Linked DNA regions of Homo sapiens: regions 1 and 2 are each linked to region 3. The links come from fine-mapping of genetic effects on gene expression. A gene starts in region 3. Each other region holds a variant in brackets. All regions are shown on one strand. Distances are from middle to middle.

What was found. PIP is the estimated chance that this variant, and not a neighbour inherited with it, causes the effect. A credible set is the group of variants that fine-mapping cannot tell apart.
Region 1: its variant is the best candidate, but not a certain one, in a credible set for the expression of KRR1 in iPS cells (PhLiPS, PIP 0.68).
Region 2: its variant is the best candidate, but not a certain one, in a credible set for the expression of KRR1 in vagina (GTEx, PIP 0.50).

What each region holds. Positions count from the first base shown.
Region 1 is chr12:75,857,832-75,860,600 of GRCh38, reverse strand. No RefSeq gene overlaps it. Among named protein-coding and RNA genes, the nearest start is that of PHLDA1-AS1, 170 kb to the left of the region's middle. The variant T/C (reference allele first, on the strand shown) is at 1,619.
Region 2 is chr12:75,635,226-75,637,994 of GRCh38, reverse strand. All of the region lies in intron 8 of LOC105369844 (a long non-coding RNA gene), which reads left to right. Among named protein-coding and RNA genes, the nearest start is that of KRR1, 130 kb to the right of the region's middle. RefSeq lists a silencer at 1,952-2,246. The variant AAAGG/G (reference allele first, on the strand shown) is at 1,579.
Region 3 is chr12:75,510,430-75,513,198 of GRCh38, reverse strand. KRR1 (KRR1 small subunit processome component) reads left to right here and starts at 1,590. Exons shown (of 10, transcript NM_007043.7): 1 at 1,590-1,686. The coding sequence starts at 1,602. RefSeq lists enhancers at 1,623-1,782, 1,289-1,832, 1,833-2,377.

The sequences.
Region 1 (2,769 bases), 350 kb before region 3:
TACTTATTATTACTATTTTTTGAGACAAGTCTCGCTCTGTCACCCAGGCTGGAGTTCATGGTATGATCTTGGCTCTCAGCAACCTCTGCCTCCCGGGTTCAAGGGAGTCTCCTGCCTCACACTCCCTAGTAGCTGGGATTACAGACATGTGCCTCCATGCCCGGCTAATTTTTTTTGCATTTTTAGTAGAGATGGGGTTTCTCCATGTTGGCCAGTCTGGTCTCAAACTCCTCAGGTGATTTGCGTGCCTCTGCCTCCCAAAGTGCTAGGATTACAGGTGTGAGCCACCACGACTGGCCAATCATGCACCTATTTAGCCCAGTAAATTTTCCTGGAAGAGTCTTGGTATGAGCTAACAATTCATAAATAGGACTGCTTTACGGTGAACTGCATGGCTGCAAGAGATGTAGGGCAGAGCTGTTGATAATCTGCTGAGATCCACACATGGCCCAGCTGGCTTTTTCAGACACTGCCTTCTTGCCTTTGGTATGCTGTTTCAGGGTGTTACACCCCAACCCATGACTCATGACTCAGTTTTTTGACTGGGCAGCCTTCTCATTGTGGTCCTTTGGCTTGGCATTTGGTTATGGCTCTCCTTCTAGGGCAGGGCACTCATCTAGGCCACACTCTGCCAACTTGGATTTAGCCTATCGGCCTCTTTGTCCCTTTCCTGGCTTCCTCATATTTCAGCTCCCTCCCTAGGTAAATGGCCTTGTGGAGTCACAGTACCTAACAAACTCTTTACCAGCATTTGATTGGCTTGATAGCCAAATAATTTCTTCTTTATTTTTAGCTGAGATCTCCTACAGATCAGCTGAGATTACATTTGTCCTAATGTAAACCATTATCCCCATCTCTGGTCCAGTATCCTCATAGGGCCAATTTTCCATTCCTTTAATCTTCCACTCATCTCTAACTTTCACTCTGTTTTATTAATTGAATTAATTAGTATAAAATACTTTGAACAGAACCTGACATAAACATATGCAGGTGGTATTATTATTTTCTTCACATCCTTTTAATAGTATTTTAATAACCTACTTCTGCATTAATGCCTTTTTAACACTGATTCAGTTTCAGATTAGACATTTATGAGTATTTGCTATGTACACAGGTACAGTGCTTGTTGGTTCATGAGTAGTATAGCATTTAATTCTCACAATGGGCTAATATTACACACAGATACATATACTTTTTGAAAACAGATGAAGGTACTAAGGCTCCCAGGGTATAAAGAAACTTACTCACGGTCACACAGACAGCAAGCGTGGACCCAGGATTGGAACCTGACTCCTTTGATGCCATGTCCCCAGTTTTTCAGTAGACCTTGGTGTCTCTCTTCCGTAAAGGATTGTTTAGAAAGGGTTGCTGTTTACAGATTGTAAGTAAAAGGACTAGTGCTATGGTTTTTAGACTTTTAAAAATATCATAAAACCTTTTATTTAAGTGAAATCTTGTGAAGAAGCCAAAATGTAAAACAGCTAATACAAAGCTGCTTGAAGCAGGTGAAGGGTGTCTGCAATTATCTCTATTACTTCCCTAATTCCCCACCCTATGGTCCCTCAAGGCCTGCTGAGGAACACAGTTCCACAACACTGAATTAGTGTAATCATGAATA[T/C]GCATCCATTTAATTCAAATGGCTCTAAAAGGGCATGCCGTGAGAGACTACCATCCTTGCCTGGTCAGCCAGCACCAAATTCTTCTCCCTGGAAGCAATGAGACAGTGCTTCTGCATTCTTCTTATTTCTTATGTGTCTATAAGCAGAAGCATTTAGGTGTCCTCTTTAAAGAAACCTCTTTTTGGTGAACAAATTGATTTAATTTGCATTTATGATTTTCTTCACTTTCCTAAACATCCTTTGGAATCCCAAAGATCAAACCAACATTTTGTTAAGGTGATTTGAAAGGCGGGCCAAAAAAAAAAAAAAAAAGGCGGTGCCTATGCATGGGGTGACTAGCCAGCCCAGTTTGTCTGGGACACTGGATTTTCACTGCTAAAACTGTGTCAGCCCCAGGCAAACTGGGATGGTTTATCACAAACCCCTGAGGTCACAAAAATCGGCCTTTAAGGACCACTAACCAGGGTCCCACAAAACCACTACTCCCATGACCTGGGCCACTTGGTTCCTGGTCTTGTTGATCAGGTGAATTGCAGGTTGTTTTGAGTCTAGTTAACACTATTCCTTTACTCGTGGCCCTGAACTTGAAAATCAATATCAAAGGTAAGCCATTTCAAAGAGATTAAAAAACAACATCTTTTTGTGTTTAAGGCATAGTTAGGATATGGGCACTATCTTTCTCTTTTTCCCTCTTATTCTTTTTTTTTTTTTTTAAACAGGGTCTCACTCTGCAACCTCTGCCTCCTGGGCTCAAGCGATCCTCCCACCTCAGCCTCCCAAGTAGCTGGGACTACAGGCATGTACCACCACACCTGGTTAATTTTTGTATTTTTTGTAGAGATGGAGTTTTGCCATGTTGCCCAGGCTGGTCTCAAACTCCTGAGCTCATGCGATCCACCCACCTTGGCCTCCTAAAGTGCTGGGTCTTATTCTTAAGGTATTTTTAAGGCAAACTAATAAATAAAGATATTTTAAGGTTACCTGTAGATAAGTATTTTTTATTTTCTATGGATTTCATTTATCCTTTATCATTTTTTAGTATTGGGCATAAATGAGACTTAACCAAAAAAACAAAAAACAAACAAACAAAAAAAACCACACACACACACATGGAAACAAAAACACTCTCTTAGTTGCAAAATACAGTAAG
Region 2 (2,769 bases), 120 kb before region 3:
TCTCTTTTCTCATTAGGTATAGTCATGGGACTGACATCCAGTCATTAGAATATGAGCAGAAATGATATATGCCAGTTCCTGATGTGCCCTATAGAAATCTTCCCTACATGTTCAAGCTCCTTTCTGTCTCCAGATGAATAAATCGAAGACGATTCCCAGATGACATTGGCAATTGTGTTTTGCGATGGAGAAGTTTCAAGATGGAAGGAACCAGGGTCTTTGAGTCCTCTGAACTACTCAAAGGAGGATAGCCATACTAGAAATACTCATTGGACCTTTATGTGAGCAAGAAATCATTAAAAAAATTTTTTTTGAGGCAACTGAAATTTTGGCACTAGATATTAAGCCTTACCTTAACTAATACACCCACTAAGATTGTGTGAAGTTGGGGGAGAAGGAGCTCCTCTGGGAATATGAAGATGTCATTGCCATAAGAAAGAAAATAAGTGATAGGCAGGCAAGAATAACAGCCATTCACCACAGCAGCCCCTGTAATGATCCACTGGACACCTTATTTGCATATCAATTTATGAGCCATTAATGGGGGCCCTGGTAGTCTGAGTAATGGCCTCCCAAAGACATCCATGTCCTAATCCCAGAAGCCTATAAATATATTACCTTATATGACAAAGGGGAATTAAGGCAGCAAATAGAATTAAGGTTGCTAATCAGATGATCTTAAATTAAGGAGATTGTTCTGGACTATCCAGGTGATATGTAATTATAAGGGACCTTAAAAATGGAAGAGAGAGGCAAATGAGGAGATCAGAGTGATTCCAAGTGGGAAGGACTTCCCTCGCCTATTCTAGTTTTGAAAATAGAAAGAAGGCAGCTTCAAGCCAAGGAATATGCATGATCTCTAGAAGTTGGAAAAGGCAAGGAAATAGATCCTACCTAGACCCTACAGAAAGGAATACAACAATGCAGTCCTGCTGGTGCCTTGATTTTAGCTGATGCCTTGATTTTAGCCAATATCTTGATTTTAACCTGATGAGACCTGCCAGACTTCTGGTTTGCAGAACATTAGATGATAAATTTATATTGTTCTAAGCCATTATGTTTGTGACAATTTGTTACAGCAGTAATAGGAAACAAATACAGGGACGTAGGCATTTTACTTTAGTTAATTGGAATACGCCAATAAAGACATCTCCCCTTAAGAGGAGAGAGTCAAGAAAACAAACAATTTCAAAGTGCACTTAATTGAAGGGTGGAAGTGTGTGGGTGTGGCGGGGGGTGCAGGGAATGTTGGAAGTAAGAAAAGCAGGGAGAGCAAAAAGATTTCCAGGAGGAAGAGTAGTCTAGATAAAAGCCTGGAAGTAAAAGAGAACTTTAAAAATTTATGTAAGTCATTCTAATTAACAAGAAGACAGAATTTGAGAACGATGATGCTTGAGAGTTGAACAAGGCTAAGATCACGAAGGGTCTGGTAAATCCACCAGGAGCTTAGACTTTCTACAGATGACAATGGGGAGACCTTAAAGGGTTAGGAAATGAACAGACATGGCTAGATCCATTCTAGATGGAGTCTGATTTCAATGTGAATGATGTATTAAGAGGGGATGGATCTGGAAGCAG[AAAGG/G]CCAATCAGGAGTTTGCCACAGAACCTTGGGCAAGTGATGGTAGGAATCTGGCATAGCACAATGATAGTAAGAGTGAAAAGTAGATGGATTTCAGAAATATAGAGTAGAGCCTATAGACTAGATAGATGCCTTTGGCTTGGGCAACAGTGTGAAAGGTGATGTGATTCATCCAGCTAGAAATACAGGATGAGAAGGAGGTAGGTGTAAGGAGAAAGAGTGGGGAAATAATGTGTTTATGGTTTTACTTTATCATCACAATCATCATCATCATTGTAACAATACTTACAACAGTACGATATCAGCTGAAATTATACTGTCATGTATGTATCTGTTTATGTGGTCACTGTCAGCAAACTTCACAAGGGCAAAGGACATCATCTTATTCACTAGAACCTGGGAACGCTGCACACAAGTTCCTTCACCCAATAACATTAGAGGTTCTATTTTGTACCCAAGTAAAACTGAGACCTCTCTGAGAATTGCCTGGTGGTTAGCTGGGGCAGGGAGAGAAGGCTTACTCACACTCAGCAGGAAGAAGGTCATTCTGTGGTCATAACTCAGTAAACTTCAAAGTGCTGTTTGAAAAGGTTGCTGATGGAATACGTTTTAAAAGGATTACTGTATGTATGCAGTAAAACATGAAGGGGATGTTTTGTTGATTTCAACTTTTTTCTCAAACCGCTGAAAAGCAGCATTGTCTCATATGGTGGGGGGGCTGAATTTTCTCATCAATCTCTAGTGCCTAGAACAATACCTGGAACGTGGTTGGTGCTCAAGCGATATTTATTTATTTTTGTGTGAGCCAGGCACTGTTCTAAGGACATAAATTCTTACAGCACTATTTTGAGGTTTTAATTATTCCGACTTTAAGAATGAGAAAACAGGCTGAGAAATCCCACAATTCAAACTCAAATCTGGCTACAAAGCCCATTATTTTAATCATTCTATTACTCAATTTGTGGGACGTGTGGAACATCCAAGTGCTAATATCTGGTAGATAGTTGAAAATATGGGTCTGAGTTCAAGATAAAAATCTAGCCTATAGATACACTTTTCAAAACCATTGGCATTTAAATGTCATATGACAGTAAGTGGGTAAAATAATGTTACCAAGGCAGTGACTTTCAAACGTATTGACTACAGTCAGCAGTAGATTTTTTTTTTTTACAGAGACCTACAGAGACCT
Region 3 (2,769 bases):
CAGTAATGATTTGGAAAAAGATGTAAAAATTTCAAAAAGGGACAGGTGAACTGTGGGCTCTGCATAGTATGGTAATTAAAAGGTTGGGTTTTACAAACAGACTCAATAGTGCCAAGAAAAGGATGGGTGGGTTTTCGTTTTCCCATCTCCATCATATTCTCAATATTCCTCAAATAATAGCAATACTAAGATTAAAAATATACACGTAAATGGGAAGAAAAGCCTATGTAGAAAATTTTGCTATAAAATAAAGGGCTTTAACACAAATATTATTTCTAGACTATTCCCTCCCCTTAATCCCTATCAGCCCTCTAACACATTTGAAGCTCCTAATGAATAGTAGCCCCCTGAAGCTGCTAGGTCAAACTGCCTGAACTTGAAGACGGGCCTTCCACTTATTAGTGATTGAGTTACTTAAAATAAGAATGATAAAAACCTGCTTCATGAGGTGTACTCCTCACTTTATAACTTTCACCTGCTGCTATCTGTTCTATTTTAGGAATTTATCATTTTTTGAGGAAATTAAAAGAACAGAGATAAAATCCCTGTCATTTATAAAACTCACAGGATAAAAACAAAAAACCCCTCTGTCGTGGGTTCTTCTGTCCATATGTAACAATCTGTTTCATACCTGGATCTCATATATGAAAACCTAAATTATTGTATAAGATACACGAGAGTGGATTTATCAGACAAACGTGTATTTCACTAATGCAAGGAATTTAACCTATCAAAGACTTTCCCTATTTGCTGCAGAAAATTTTAGAAATGCAAGCAATAAAATCAAAATTTAAAAAAATCTTATATTTGGCATGTCGAAGAACTCTTATACTTCCAAAAGTGTAGTTATTTGTAGTTAGTGATGAACCTCTCTACACATCTTAGCCCTATGTAATGTTGGGGGTAGAAAAGGAGTTTAGAGATTTTGAGAAATCTTAGGCTAGTTGAAATACTTCAGAAACGTCAGGATGTTGAATTACCATCCCTCTGACTTAGAGAAATACCAACACTCGGGAAGATTACCATCAGAAACAACTTTGAAAAGTTTAATTTTGTCACTGTTTTTAAAATTAGAAATAATGTAAATAAAGTACTGAAACAAAGTAGTCTCACAATAAATAGTAGCTATTCCTGTCACTTGTTGCAGTGGAGGCCCAATATACATTGTATTCTCATATTTGTACTTCCTCCCAACATCTAGCGCATATTTGGCCAACATATAAATATTTATCGAAAGAATGAATGACATCAATGACAGGTTGGTAGCACTCCGCTGTCCGATGGTCCAGGTTAGGCCGTGAGGCCACGAGGAAACTACGGATAAAACAGTATCCAATTTGCCTATACCGCCTGCTAAACTACAAGTCCCAGTACGCAAACTCCATGGTTTCAGGGCATACTGGGAGAAAGTCTCCGGCTCTTCATTGGCCACGTAGGAGAAGCTGTGGTTTGTGTAAAAGCGCGGGCTTAACGCACGTACGCACGGAGACTGCGCAGATCTCCTCGTCTGAGTTCCGCGGAACTCATTTTGAGTGTAGGCGTTTTAGCCGGTAGGGTTTAAGAACAGTTTCATTTCCGGAGCCACCGGAAGCAGCTTGCAAATGGCGTCTCCCTCGCTGGAGCGGCCAGAAAAAGGCGCTGGAAAAAGTGAATTTCGTAACCAGAAGCCGAAGCCGGAGAACCAAGGTGATGTTATGTGGGAACCGAAGCCTGGGGTTTGTGTACGTTGAGTTGCGATGTTTTTTTCTTTCGTTCCTCGTGGACTTATAAAACCACCTGGAGCCTGTACTGTGTAGTTGAGTACCTGAATAATCGCTGATAAGATTTTGGCTGGGCCCACAGGAACGGCTGGCCGATATGGTGCCACCCAGGTGTTCCTAATTCATTGCTTTTGCTAAAGGGTCCCCAAAGCGAAGCTGTTGCGGATTACGTCTTTTGTAAAAGGATGAGTATTAAGAAAATGCCTAGGGCGACGCAGAACCTTGTAAGCCTGCGGGTGGCTGAAAGTCACTGACGGAATGAGGAATAGGGTGAGGTGGGAATAGGTAGTCATGATATACAAGAGTGGACCCTGATAATGGGGTGAGGTATGGGGAAAGGAGCTATCCGACATGTCCTTAGCTCTAGTTTGTCAGTAAAGACATTTTGAAAGATTATCAATTCCTGTTTGTCAGATGCTAAAATATTAGACGACACAGCCCTTACTGTTTAGGTTGTGTTACCTTTTAATTGTTAACTCCTGCGTTGTAGTCTGGTTTTACCCGTTTTCTTCAGTGTGAATGATAGAGAAGTCATAAATAGCCTGGGGATCTGTTCAACCAGGCTTATAGGAAGTGTTAAAAACATTGAACTCTCAATTTAGATGCATTGGGAAAGTATTCAAAGTTTCTTTGTTGTTGCTCATTAAATGATTATGTAACGTACATAGCAGGGGATACAACTTATATAGAGTTTAATAAAACCATGCGGGAAACTAGCATTCAGACTAAGTAAAATAGAGCATTACCATACCCCTCAAACCCTTACGTGCACCTCTCAGATCATATTCTCTTTTCCTGTATCAGACGTAACCACCCTGAATTGTGTTGCATTCTGTTCCTCTTCTTGTAGTCATGAAGTGGCTTAATTTAGCCTGTTTTTTAATTTTATATACATGAAAGTGGACCGTATGCATTTTTCTGTGTCTTCTTAGATTTAGCTTTTTGTTTTTCAAACAGGGTGATACTTGCGGGTGTAGTTTTAGTCTTTTCACTGTTATGTGGTGTTTCC